Linked DNA regions of Homo sapiens. The protein of the gene in region 2 purifies or fractionates together with the protein of the main gene of each other region. This does not show direct contact. Each region holds a gene or a part of one and is shown on either strand. Other genes may lie near its edges.

Region 1 (3,500 bases), on a different chromosome or scaffold from region 2:
AATTGTATCATAGAGCATGGGACTTGATAGCTTACTTTATTTTTAAACTACATTCTAAAAATAGTTCAGAAACATTTATCCTGTATAGTCATTTTGGTACATATACAAAAGGGCTATTTCTTTCAAGATATGCTTTAATTGTGATAGAGGATGATAAACTTGCTTATAGTCTGAGAGATCAGCAATGGTAGAATACTTATTTCATAAAGTTAGAAATAGTGTGAGAAGTGAAATATTTCCTTTCTATATGGGTAAATGTATATATTTCTCTAAGGCTATGTTTATATGTGTCAGTTAGGTAGAGAATTGAATCAGAGGCAATATGTAATCCATGCTGGAATTCCAGCTGGTTTTCATAAGAAATATCCATGTAATATAAGCCGATGTGGCCTGTGGTAGATTTTTTTTTTTTTCAATTTCAGTGGTCAGCAGAATTGTTCTGGGTCTCCATTTCTCTTTACATTTATATACATTTCAATTACAAATTTAAGGCTTTTAAATCTCTCTGTTGTGGTTTCTGTTGTTATAAAGCTTCTTAGAAGATTTGGATCCTATCCCATGTGTTCTTTGGGCTGAGAGGCTCAATAGCTCTTATCCGTATGGAGACATCAGTATCACAACCGAAGCTGTCCTGTCCTCTCACACTCATGTTGCCACTCTTTTATAAGCTTTTAGGAAGGAACATGAAATGTAATTTTTAAAAGATCCATAGATAATATATTTATTATCTATGCTAATAGATATAATATAGGACCATGCTAATAATATAATTTATTTATTATCTATGCTAATAGATATAATATAGGACCATGCTAATAATAATAGGACCATGCTAATCTTCTCTGTATTGTTTCAATTTTAGTATATGTGCTGCTGAAGCAAACATATTTAATATAGCATATTTAACGTATTATATATAACATATGTAATATGTGTAATATAGTACATAATTATAATGTATTTATAATTTTAATATATTTAATATAATAAATATATAAGATATATACATTATATAAAATATATTTATAATGTATATAATTATAAATAAATGTATTTATGATTTTAATATATCAAATATATTAAAATTATAAATATCAATATAAATATATAAATAGTATAATATACTGTACAATAATATATAATATACGAAATATTATATAATATATAATTATAATATACTTAATATAATTATATTTAGTATATTATGAGATATAATTATATATTTAATGTATTAAAATATATTAGGGACAGAAAACGATTTTTTGGGAGAAAAAGTAATACATGAGAAAATAGCAGAGGCATTTAGTATTCTTTTAACAATCTCAATTCGTCACCTCTTTCTGTCTCTCTTCCTCTCTTTTTGTCTCTCTCTCACACACAAATTAACTGTGCACTTTGCATATTTTCTTCCACCCTCTGTGGTACAGTAAGTGCAATGCAGTCAGCTTTTGGTACATGTTGTGACTAACACAAATTAGTGAACATTGAGAAGTTGATTAAGATGATGGACAGATTAGAGGAGAAATTGATAATGATAACATGCAGTCACATTTACTTTTTAGTTTCCTGGCTACTATTTTTAAGAACTTAACGGAACATTGTTAGCAGATTAGTGGTTAATAGCATGAGCTCTGCAGCCTGTGGTCCTGGCTTACTTAAGCTTCAGTTTAAAATAAAACACAAAACTGAGATAATAGCTATACATAAGTTGCTCTAGTAATTAAATGAGTAGTATGCCGAAAACTTAGCACAGTGTACATTTTATGCACTCAATACATATGTTAGTAATAAAAATGATGATAGTAGCAATTGTGTTATGTCTCTGTTTTAACAAGGCACCATTATATAAATCTGTACTTTTTAAAAAACAACATTTTAAATGAACATTTACATTGCTTAATGTTTTTAAACATTATTAAAATAGACAGAAAATTGAGCTATATTGATCTGTAAAGAAGAATTCCTTCAATGACAGAGTGGCAGACATGATGACTTAATTAGCAAACCCTTTCATTATATCATTTATAATATAGTTTTATCCACATACTAAGATAACATCATATGGAACACATATGTCTTAAGTGTTGCGTGGCTGACTGGAGGGCGTGCACAAGCAATGTAGGGGGACTGCAGATGACTTTTATTTAACAGTTTTTGTCCTTAGCCAAGATGGTGTAATTAGAAGTATGTTCATTAACTTTGTAGAGTTCATTAAGCCCAGGAATTTAGAAGCCAAAACATGATGTGTCTCTTAGAAAATAGGCTGTAAATTCCTCTGGGCAAAGTGGAGATCTGGTAATAAGCAGATGGGATGGTATTTATTAGTGTCAAGTTCAGGATGGCATAACTAAAAAAACTATTAATGGAGATAATTAAACCATTTGTAAAAAATTTCCCCCTTAATCTTGGTGTCTTAGTGAGCAAAAAGTTGGTTATGAGTCAACAAATTAGAATTCTTGTTAAAACTAAAACATCATATATAGGAACCATTTTACTACCTATACATATTTCATAGTATGTTGTGTACCTCCATATAACACAATACAATTTATTTTGAAAGAAAGTTAAAGTGAAAGCATCATTTATTTTTACTCCATTTAGTATGAGATTTGATTCATTAGAACCTTCAAGTAGTGGTTACCTCTGGTTAGACATTCACTGTAGTGCTCTGACCAGGTTAGGACTCCACAGATAAAAGAATAAAACTTTCAGATAAAAGCCACAAAGAATATTAAAGGAGAGACAAAGAAAAATACAGAGACAGAAAATTAAAGGAATGTGTACATTATTACCTAATTTTAAAGAAGAGAAAGCTCTGTAGGAGCTTAACAACATTTAAATGGCTGTTAAATAGAAGTTGGATACGAGTTATTCCTCATTAGCTTTATTGAGATAGAAACAGGATTAAACCACATCTCAGAGTTAAAGGGAAGAACTTCAGTTCAGAGGGAATTGTCAATTATAGGGCACGTTACCAACAGATGATTCAGAATCTTTTTTTCCAGAAATATTAAAAAACAAAACTAACTTATATCTATTAATGCAGATTGAAAAGGAGTGAAGTATCTTTTTTAGAGCAGATGAATGTTCTAGATGATTTCTGAAATTTTCCTTAGCTTTACTGCTAGGATATTAAAATACTTGGGGAATAAAAGAGGCTTATACAATAGAGTCCTCTAACAGTTAACTTTTGACTCATTGTAGTTTTGCAACCAAGTAAAAACTTGCTTGACATTTATATAAGATTTGATATTTTTTTTTCCTACTCTGCAGATTACTCGCCTGAAGATAGATAGGAATCCATTTGCTAAAGGCTTCCGAGACTCCGGGCGCAACAGGTGGGCCTTAGTGAAGACCATTCCGGTTATGATAAATATATTTGATATTTTATTATGAATTTTCTATTACAAAGTAAATGGCTAAATTTACTAATACGATATTGAAATCATTTCTGATGAGGACTGTTGTGCCTCGGAGATAACTTATTTTTGTAGTGTAAT
Region 2 (3,500 bases):
GGAGCGTAGCCTTCCTTCAAGCATGATTTCTTGACCTCACCTTTGTCTCTTGGTGTACTGGCAAAAACCATATCAGATACTCTGAACCCTGAACAGGGATCTTCATGCTTCATTATTTCAGGTCCTTTTGCTGTTATTAGCCTGATGATTGGTGGTGTAGCTGTTCGATTAGTACCAGATGATATAGTCATTCCAGGAGGAGTAAATGCAACCAATGGCACAGAGGCCAGAGATGCCTTGAGAGTGAAAGTCGCCATGTCTGTGACCTTACTTTCAGGAATCATTCAGGTAAGGCTCAAAGATGGGGAAATGGACTGTCTCGTTTGTTAACCTAACAAGTATCTACTGAGTGCTCTTGGCTGGTCTTACTACACGGTGGATGGGGTCAGCCAGAAAAACCCCAGAGCTCTGGGAGTAACTGCAGACCAACTGCATGCCATATTCACAACTATGAGTGACGAGCAAGCAAGCTTCAGGTGGGTGTTTTAAAGATCCCAAAAGCAAGACAAGTTTGACACGGCAGGATTGGTTAGTGCTGGGAGAGGACATTCCTCTCTGCTTGGAAGAAACAGCCAGTGATCATGATCATGCACTTTAGTCTACATGATGAAGCATGCCCCCAGCTCAATGAGAGACAGGGAAGGCATTAGTGTGGTCAGCGCACTGTGGGGCACCAAGCCACTCCAGACCTTCCATTGTTTTCTGTATAACCAGTGGTTGATTTTCTAGCTACTTACCCACTTGAGGTACAAGTTTGCAGTGTTAGAAAATGGTCCAGAGGCTGGGCGCGGTGGCTCACACCTTTAATCCCAGCACTTTGGGAGGCTGAGGCAGGCGAATCACAAGGTCAGGAGTTCGAGACCACCCTGGGCAACATAGTGAAACCCCGTGTCTACTAAAAATACAAAAATTAGCCGGACATGGTGGCACACACCTTTAGTCCCAGCTACTCAGGAGGCTGAGGCAGGAGAATCGCTTGAACCCGGGAGGCAGAGGTTGCAGTGAGCTGAGACTGTGCCACTGCCTGGGTGACAGAGCAAGACTCCATCTCAAAAAAAAAAGAAAATGGTCAAGAAAGAACTTGTATATTTGCTGTGGGTCATAACTTCCTGACCTATCATGTGATTCATTTGTTTCTTTGTCATTAAAAAAAAATAGTTTTGCCTAGGTGTCTGTAGGTTTGGATTTGTGGCCATATATCTCACAGAGCCTCTGGTCCGTGGGTTTACCACCGCAGCAGCTGTGCATGTCTTCACCTCCATGTTAAAATATCTGTTTGGAGTTAAAACAAAGCGGTACAGTGGAATCTTTTCCGTGGTGTATGTAAGTAAGAAACTACCTGACGTTCTGGTACTTTTCTCTTTATTCCCCCCAACCTTCTCTTCTGTATCTCTTTTTACTTTCAAGACTCATTTTTCTTTTTCTCCAGTAATTTCCATAAAAAGGGAAAAATTCATTTATTCTAAGGTTTTCTGAAAAGAGTGTTACAAAGAGAACTAAACCTTAAAATCTCTGTTATTAATATGTGATACTGCCTACTTCACAAGGAATTTTTTGCTAGGTCTTTATTTGGTGACTGCACCATCACTCTAGGTAAAGAGAGAGCTTTTTCTTACAACTAAATCATGATCTTTTTGGAAACTAACAAATAATTTAAAGGCATGAAGGTAGAACATTTCTCTCTCAAAAACTGCTAATTAAGGCCGGGCGTGGTGGCTTATGCCTGTAATCCCAGCACTTTGAAAGGGCTAGATGGGCGGATCACGAGGTCAGGAGATCGAGACTATCCTGGCTAACAAGTGAAACCCCGTCTCTACTAAAAATAGAAAAAAATTAGCCAGGTGTGGTGGCGGGCACCTGTGATCCCAGCTACTCAGGAGGCTGAGACAGGAGAATGGCGTGAACCCGGGAGGTGGAGCTTGTAGTGACCCGAGATCCCATCACTGCACTCCAGCCTGAGCGACAGAGCAAGACTCTGTCTCAAAAAAAAAACAAAACCTGCTAGTTCAAACTGGCAAAAAATAAGTAAGGCTATAAAAGATTTAACTAACATGAATCTTTTAATTATATAGACCCCTTACCAAACACAGAGAAAATATAAATTATTTGCAAGCACTTAAGGAACAATGGTAATAACTGATCATGTTGAAATCGATCATGTGAAACTGATCACAAATTCTAAAAATTCAATGTTTTTTCACACAGTGCAATATAATAAAAAAATCAAAAACTAAACATAGCTTTAAAACTCCCATATATTTAGAAACCAAAAAACATTTCTAAATGACCCATGAATAAAGAGGGAATTAGGAAATAATTAGAATTAATTGACAGTAGAAGTACTACATATCAAAACCTCTGAGATGCTGTTAAAGCTATCCTTGAAAAGAGAGGCCTGTTGCCTTTGTAGGTATTTATGTGCCAGACACTGCTAGGTGCCAAGATGCAGCTGTGAGCTAAGAAGATACAGGCCTTGCCCTCTGGAGCTTTCAGTACAGTGGGAAGATTGTAAACCATTAATCGCATACATGTGTAGTCAATTACAATTTGTGTTGAGTGCTATGAAGAAGAAGTACCAGCTGCTCTGAAAGTTAAATAGGGAGACCTTTAGATTAGGGGTCTAGGAAAGGCACTTTGACATTTAAGTTGAGTCCCTGACTGATAAAAATGGAATCAGGCTTTAGGAATATTCTCTAAATAACAAAATTCTTAGTTTCCCATAATAGCTATTATCATACTTCTTACTCTGAGACTTGTCGAAATGCCTTGTCACAAAGGAAATAAAACATACTGAGTACTCTAGGCATCGATAGGAAAGGGTGCATGTTGTGGGCTGAGTGGGAAGTCTACTTTATTGGGTTTCAAATGAGAACTGACTATATTTGAGGTGCCCAGTTGGTAACCCTAGGATATAATTAAGTGGATTTGTTCTCTAGTTCTCCTAGGTTCCTTTCCCAAACATCAGCACTCTTGACTTCAAAGTCCTGCTAACAATAATTTCTCTCTCTTTGAGCTCCTAAAAGCTTTTCAATGTATTTACCTTTGGAGTACTTTGCTATCAACCCTTAATTCTTTCCAATTGCTCAGGACTCAGCTTCAGGGTTCCTTTTCTGGATTTTATAATATTACATTGAGACATCAGCATATGATAAGAATAATTGTTTGATAAGAATAACTATAAGGCTGGGCACAGTGGCTCACACCTGTAATCCCAGAACTTTGGGAGGCCGAGGCAGGCAGATGACTTGAGGTCAGGAGTTCGAGACCAGCCTGACCAACATGGTGAAACTCCGTGTCTACTAAAAATACAAAAATTAGCTGGGTGTGGCGGCAGGCACCTGTAATCCCAGCTACTCAGGAGGCTGAGGCAGGAGAATTGCTTGAACCTGGGAGGCAGAGGTTGCAGTGAGCCAAGATCATGCCACTGCACTGCAGCCTGGGCAACAGAGCAAGACTGTGTCTCAAAAATAAATAAATAAATAAATAACAACTATAAAAAG
Region 3 (3,500 bases), on a different chromosome or scaffold from region 2:
TACCTCTCCTTTGTATATTATTTCTAGGAAGAATTTTAAAGATGAATCCTACATACTTAAGGGAGATGTTTTGAAAAATAGTAAAAAAAAAAAATTTAACTTTAATAATAAGATAACATTGCTAAGATGTTCGTACTCTGTAATCTTGTTTCAAAAACATGGTGGTTTTGTGAAGTATGATCCCAACAGAAGGACAATTCATGAATTTCACATGAAAAGACAGTTCTTTGTACAACACTGCTAAAAATGGGATTTCTTTCCATATTCTTAAAAATATGAAGCTCACCTATTGTTTACAATTTGTTTAACTTTGTATTTTCCAAGTGTGCATATTGGAATGGGGGATGCTTAGCAATACTATGTGTGCATTTTCTGAAGGTTGATAACTTTGCTTGCAGTAAATTTTCTTTAAAAGAATGGGCAGTTGCAGCTGGGCGCAGTGGCTCATGCCTGTAATCCCAGCACTTTGGGAGGCCGAGGCGGGCAGATCACCTGATGTCAGGAGTTTGAAACCAACCTGGTCAAAATGGCAAAACCCCATCTATACTAAAAACACAAAAATTAGCCAGGCATAGTGGCACACACCTGTAGTCCCAGCTACTAAGGAGGCTGAGGCAGGAGAATCGCTTGAACCCGGGAGGCGGAGCTTGAGTGAGCTGAGATCACGCCACTGCACTCCAGCCTGGGTAACAGACCGAGACTCTGTCTCAAAAAAAAAAACAAACAATAAAATAAAATAAAAGAATGGGCAGTTACATGTACACTTCAAAAGTATTTTCCTGTTTAAAAAAAGTATATGGGTTTTGTTTGCTATCTTAATTTTGGTTGTATTCTTTGATGTAAACACATTTTCTATCATTGCATCATTCAGCTATATTGAATCATGTAGTATCAAATATTAGACGTGATTTAACAGTGTTAATCAATTTAAATCCATTTTAGTCTTTTTTTAGAAAAATATTGGGGTCGAGCACGGTGGCTCATGCCTGTAATCCCAACACTTTGGGAGGCCAAGGCAGGCAGATCACCTGAGATCAGGAGTTTGAGACCAGCCTGGCCAATGCGGTGAAACCCCATCTCTATTAAAAATACAAAAATTAGCTGGGCGTAGTGGTGGGCACCTGTAATCCCAGCTACTCAGGAGGCTGAGGCACGAGAATTGCTTGAACCTGGGACGCAGAGGTTGCAGTGAGCTAAGAATGCGCCACTGCACTCCAGCCTGGGCAACAGAGTGAGACTCCATCTCAAAAAAAACAAACAAACAAAAAATATATTGCCAGATGCTGATGTTCAGTGTACTTTCTTTGCCTGTTCAATCATGGAAGGTGGCACTCAGTTGCAGAATGTGTTGTACCTTTCAGCACCTGATGTATACATCCCGTGTAACAGAAAGGGCAACAATAAAACAGTGATCCTAAAAAAAGCCGGGGACACATCCATGGGCCACTCTGTGACCAGCAGGAAAGGGGTTAACTCCTTCAGGAGATTCTCCATTCCAGGAAAAGGAAAAGGGGAGGAGAAGTCCCTTCTGTGCTTTCCAAACAGAATCTTCGAAAAATGTCCCAGCGTCCCAGGCCTCCATTCTGGGAAGGCCAGACAGAGGCCGGCACAGCCCACAGAGAGGAAGGGCCTGGGGCTCAGCAGGATGCAGAAGCTGGCAGGGTCCCAGGTCATCTCAGGGCACCCACCCCTCTCCCCTCCCATGGGCCCCAGCCCAGCCTGTTGGCCGTTTCCCAGGGTACCCACAGCCCTCACAGCACCACATCCTCTCTCCTTGGGGAATTTCTGAAAGCCCCAGCTCCCTGGGAGCCCAAAGCATTGGCAGTGACACACCCAGTTCCCAAAGATGTTCTCTACTGCCTTCCATGGGTGTGCAGATGACCCAGACACCCCACCTGCCTCTCTCATCAGTGCCCCAGCTTCAGCCCAGGCAGGGGCACCCCTTAAAGCCAAAGTCAGCCCACATGCCAGTTATGGGAAATACACAAAACGCTTCACAAGGGCTGTCACACCTCTGCCACGCTGCTCTTTCTGCTGGGGAAGCCTTGCCCTCCTCCTTTGCAAACTCCTGGCCATCCCTCAAAGCCCACGTGAAGTATCACACACACCCCAGGCCAGCCATTCCCTCCCTCAGGCTCCAACCATAACTAGCACAGACCCCATCACAGAACCAGACATGGTGTCTGCATGTACCTCACTCACCTCCTGGCAGGGACAGAGTTTAATCTACCTTCGGAGCCCCTGCACCTCATACTGAACCCAGGGCCAAGAAAGCTCAGGAACCCACATCAAGATGCCACGCTGGTCCCTTCCCACCAACTGGTCCTGTGCAAGCATCCTGGCCTCTGCTGAGAGAATAACATCGTGGTAATAACATAAGCACCTAATGTTTACTGAGTACTTCCTAGGAGCCAGACAGCCTCGGAGGCTCTCTGCGATTACCTCCTTTCATCCTTGTGACATTCTCATAAGGGAGTTGCTATCCTTAACCCTGTTACACAAGGGACTTGAGGCACAGAGAGGTTAAGTTTCTTGCCCTGGGCCACATGGCTAATGAGGGAGGGAGCAGAAATTCAGACCCTGGTAGTTTCTTTCCAGAGCCAGTGTTCTTAATCACAACAGGTCTATTTGCAGGTAGGAAGATGGTCGAGGCAGATGTGTCAGGAAAAGCCCTGAGTGGAAAAGGAACTCAGGGATTATAAAGGCCAGTGCTTCCAGACCTTCTCTTTCCCCGGGTCCCAGCCAAAGGCCTCGGAAGACAAACAGAGCCTCCTCCCAGACTAAGCCTGCTGCTCCCAGGCTCAATCCTGTGCTGAGCACCAGTTACAGGAAACATAAAAAGTCCATCTGCAAGTGCCTTGGCCCAAGACAGGGGCAGCACATGGCTGGGCTGCCCTCTGGGAAACGAAAGCCATGATTTGGGACTATTCTTAGCAAACACTGGCTCCCCTCCCAGAGGCCCAGCAGTCAGCAGGCCCAAGCTTCCATACGCCCGCCCAGCCTGCCATTTCCTGACCCCGTGTATGGAGGTCCCACAGGGCTAAGGAGGGACTAGTGGGCACCGACTGAGGACAAAGCCCTCCAGCTTTCACAGGAGAGGTGCCTGGCCCACCCAGCCTGCTCCAGACCTCACCCAGAGGCCCAGGGCCATGCACCTGGCTGCTGAGGAAGCCCTGCAGAGTCCTGGCCACAGGGGATGGCTCATAATCAAAGGCCCCCACCGCCACATCAACTGAGCACTCACTCCATGCCATGCACTGGGCCACATGCTTTGCACTGATTTTCTCCCACTGAACCCACAAGGAGGTAGAGGTTACTGACCCCACTCTAAAGATGAGGAAACCAATACATTAATTGACTTGCTGGAGGTTGCATGGTGCATTAGTATCAAAGCATATCTAGAATCTGGGCTGTCTCTCAGGTGCCAGGTTGGGCAGAGGAGACCTGAGCATAGCCAGGTGGGGGACCCCTTCCCTGTGCAAGCCCACGGCTTAGCAGAG
Region 4 (2,595 bases), on a different chromosome or scaffold from region 2:
CTTGGGGCATTTGCATGTGTGTTACTTTTTTCCTGACAGTTCATCATTCAGATCAGAGGTCACCACTTAGGAGGTCCTCCTGTGACCCATTCTGAAGTGACCCTCTAGACACACTCAATTCACATACTGTGATTTACATTATTAAGCAGGATGTAATTACAAACTAATATTTTTATTGCCTCTTCCCCACCTCACAGCCACTAACTAGGATATATGTTACTCACTTACTAACTAGGACACAGGGTCTCACCAGAGCCTAAAGTGGAATCTGCTATATGCTAATTTAAGTGTTCAATACATATATGTTGAATTAATAACTGCAAGTACAGAAGGTACTAACTTTTGAGTCAAAAGGACTAGCTGACTTCAAATAAAAATTCTAAATTCTCAAATATTAAAAATATGTTGGGATATAGCCCTAAATTCACAACTGAGATGAATTACACCATTCAGAAGGTTGTGGCTTCTAAGAATCTGAACAAAAAGGAACCAGGCAGAAATGCCAACTTAAAATGAAAATGTTTATATAAATTAACCCATCCAGTTTAAAGTAGATTTGCTATGCTTCACTTACTTAAGGAAGAATATATACTTCCTATATTAATAAATCACATCAAATAAGTAGGAAGTTTCAATAACAAGCCTGTAGATACATTGAAACCCCTTTTTATATTAAAAGTTAAAATGAAAGACAAATCCAGATTGAACATAGTGATTGCAAAATATAATGCAATTTTCAACAATTAAAATTATGAAAATATACAAAATTGATGGGCAACACAACTAGGCATTTGTACATTTTCCATTATGTGGAGAACACTACAAGTTTCTCTACCTTTTATCTACATCAGATAAATGATTTAAACCAAATGTTTGCTTTGGAGAGTCTTAACTTAGGATCTCAGTAGTATAAAAAGCAATAATTTTTCAGTCTGTAAACAGTAGTCGTGATTTTTCTCCTTTCCTTTTTTAAATATCAGTTTACCACACAAAAACAAACAAAACAAAAAAACCCATACAAATCAAAAACAGCAGCAGCAGCAATGGGTTATTTGGGAATTCTCTTCAAATACCAATGGCATACGATTGCTGGGAGAGGGTGCTTTTTACTCATGTAAGAATATATATATATATATATTTTTTTAACTGTACACAATTTATAGTACATGAGGGTTTCCAAAAGAACAGATTGATAAGAGATATTGGCCATTTCTGCATAATTTCATTCTTTTTACAATTATCTCAAAATGTGAAAGCTGGATCTAATTGAAATGCTACATTTAGTAGGAAAATCAGCAAATAACAAAGGAAGCATAACCTCAACATAACATTATTTGTCATTAAAGCCAGTAGAGGTCCCAGATATCTTTAGGCAAGAGACTGGTTAGGAAGACCACTAGAGTCACACACTGTCCCTGAGGACCAAGGCTAGCCCACTGAACATACATATGCTAGATTGATCATGGTCAGTCGATAGACTTTTTCAAAGAGCATTTCTACAGTACAGTACTTTTTTGGATATTCAGAGAGACATCATTTCAAGAACACACGCCATACACATGTACCCCACCCTCCCCAGCAGACACACACAAAGTTCCATCTTAAACAGGCCATAGTTTTATGAAAGAATATGTTGTCATTACATGAAATTCAGAATTAACCACAATTTTCCATTCATCTTGTTCAAGACAGTTCTTCCTTTTGGGATAGGGTATATGACCAGCTGTTGCTACTCATATCAAAAATAAATTTTTGAAATTAGTTGATGGACTAGGATTTCCAACAAGCCTTATTTTGAACAGGTAATGTAGTAATTGTTTAAAATTTCCTTGGAAGTTTAAGCACTGTATCAAATTATGAATCTAAGAAAGTCAAAATGAAGGGACAAAATGCAATTACTTTGCGTACACAGATATTCCCAGCTCTCTTGGTTGCTTTTAAAAGAAAAAAGTACCACATTTCACTGGAGCAGTGCAGGTTGGAAAGCACCTTTAAGGTCTTCAAGACCAATCCTCCATTGGATGCTTAATTTCCTCATCAAATTCATTTCTTTGCTCTTACAGAATTAAACTTGAACTATATTTAGGTAACAGACCAAAAACAGAAGCAGGGATTTAAACAGAAAAATATTATCAAAGAAACTGCATAAATTGTAGGACATTTTCAAGAGCAATTTTTACCTCTTCTATCAGACCAACCACTGATAGAAGAAGCTAGAGTCTTGGGGACATCCAGGTGAACAAAGTAAACACCATCCTGTTATAATTCTCTAAGTTTGAAGAAAGTAGTCCAAACCTCAAACCCACTGAATAACATTTCTTTTGCCAGCCTAAAACTTAAAGCCTAAGGCTAAATCCATAATATTACATTCCTTCCTTCCCAAACCCCCCACACTTAAAACATTAAAGTATTAAATCTTAATTTTCAAGTCATATATATATGTGTATATATATATATGTATATATATGACTCACAAAACCAATGAAATAAGTATCATACTTGCCTGCATAAATTATGTGCACCTCTCTTCTTTGAAACAGTCATTCCTATCTTTCCCAAATGTATGAAAGACAGAAAGCTAGTCCTCAGCGGGCT

The links. The genes of interacting proteins can lie anywhere in the genome.
Region 1: the proteins of SLC26A5 (region 2) and TBX18 purify together in Homo sapiens (affinity purification with mass spectrometry; one large-scale study listed by BioGRID and IntAct). This does not show direct contact.
Region 3: the proteins of SLC26A5 (region 2) and PALD1 purify together in Homo sapiens (affinity purification with mass spectrometry; one large-scale study listed by BioGRID and IntAct). This does not show direct contact.
Region 4: the proteins of SLC26A5 (region 2) and NAA25 purify together in Homo sapiens (affinity purification with mass spectrometry; one large-scale study listed by BioGRID and IntAct). This does not show direct contact.

The regions. Positions count from the first base shown.
Region 1 is NC_000006.12:84,744,099-84,747,598, reverse strand, and holds part of TBX18 (T-box transcription factor TBX18), read left to right. Parts: intron 1-824; exon of another isoform or gene 825-882; intron 883-3,273; coding exon 3,274-3,338; intron 3,339-3,500. UniProt on the Homo sapiens protein: Acts as a transcriptional repressor involved in developmental processes of a variety of tissues and organs, including the heart and coronary vessels, the ureter and the vertebral column.
Region 2 is NC_000007.14:103,408,208-103,411,707, reverse strand, and holds part of SLC26A5 (prestin), read left to right. Parts: intron 1-121; coding exon 122-288; intron 289-1,158; coding exon 1,159-1,323; intron 1,324-3,500. UniProt on the Homo sapiens protein: Voltage-sensitive motor protein that drives outer hair cell (OHC) electromotility (eM) and participates in sound amplification in the hearing organ.
Region 3 is NC_000010.11:70,481,767-70,485,266, reverse strand, and holds part of PALD1 (paladin), read right to left. Parts: exon of another isoform or gene 2,203-3,500; intron 1-2,202.
Region 4 is NC_000012.12:112,026,189-112,028,783, forward strand, and holds the end of NAA25 (N-alpha-acetyltransferase 25, NatB auxiliary subunit), read right to left. Parts: 3' UTR 501-2,595; downstream 1-500. UniProt on the Homo sapiens protein: Non-catalytic subunit of the NatB complex which catalyzes acetylation of the N-terminal methionine residues of peptides beginning with Met-Asp, Met-Glu, Met-Asn and Met-Gln. May play a role in normal cell-cycle progression.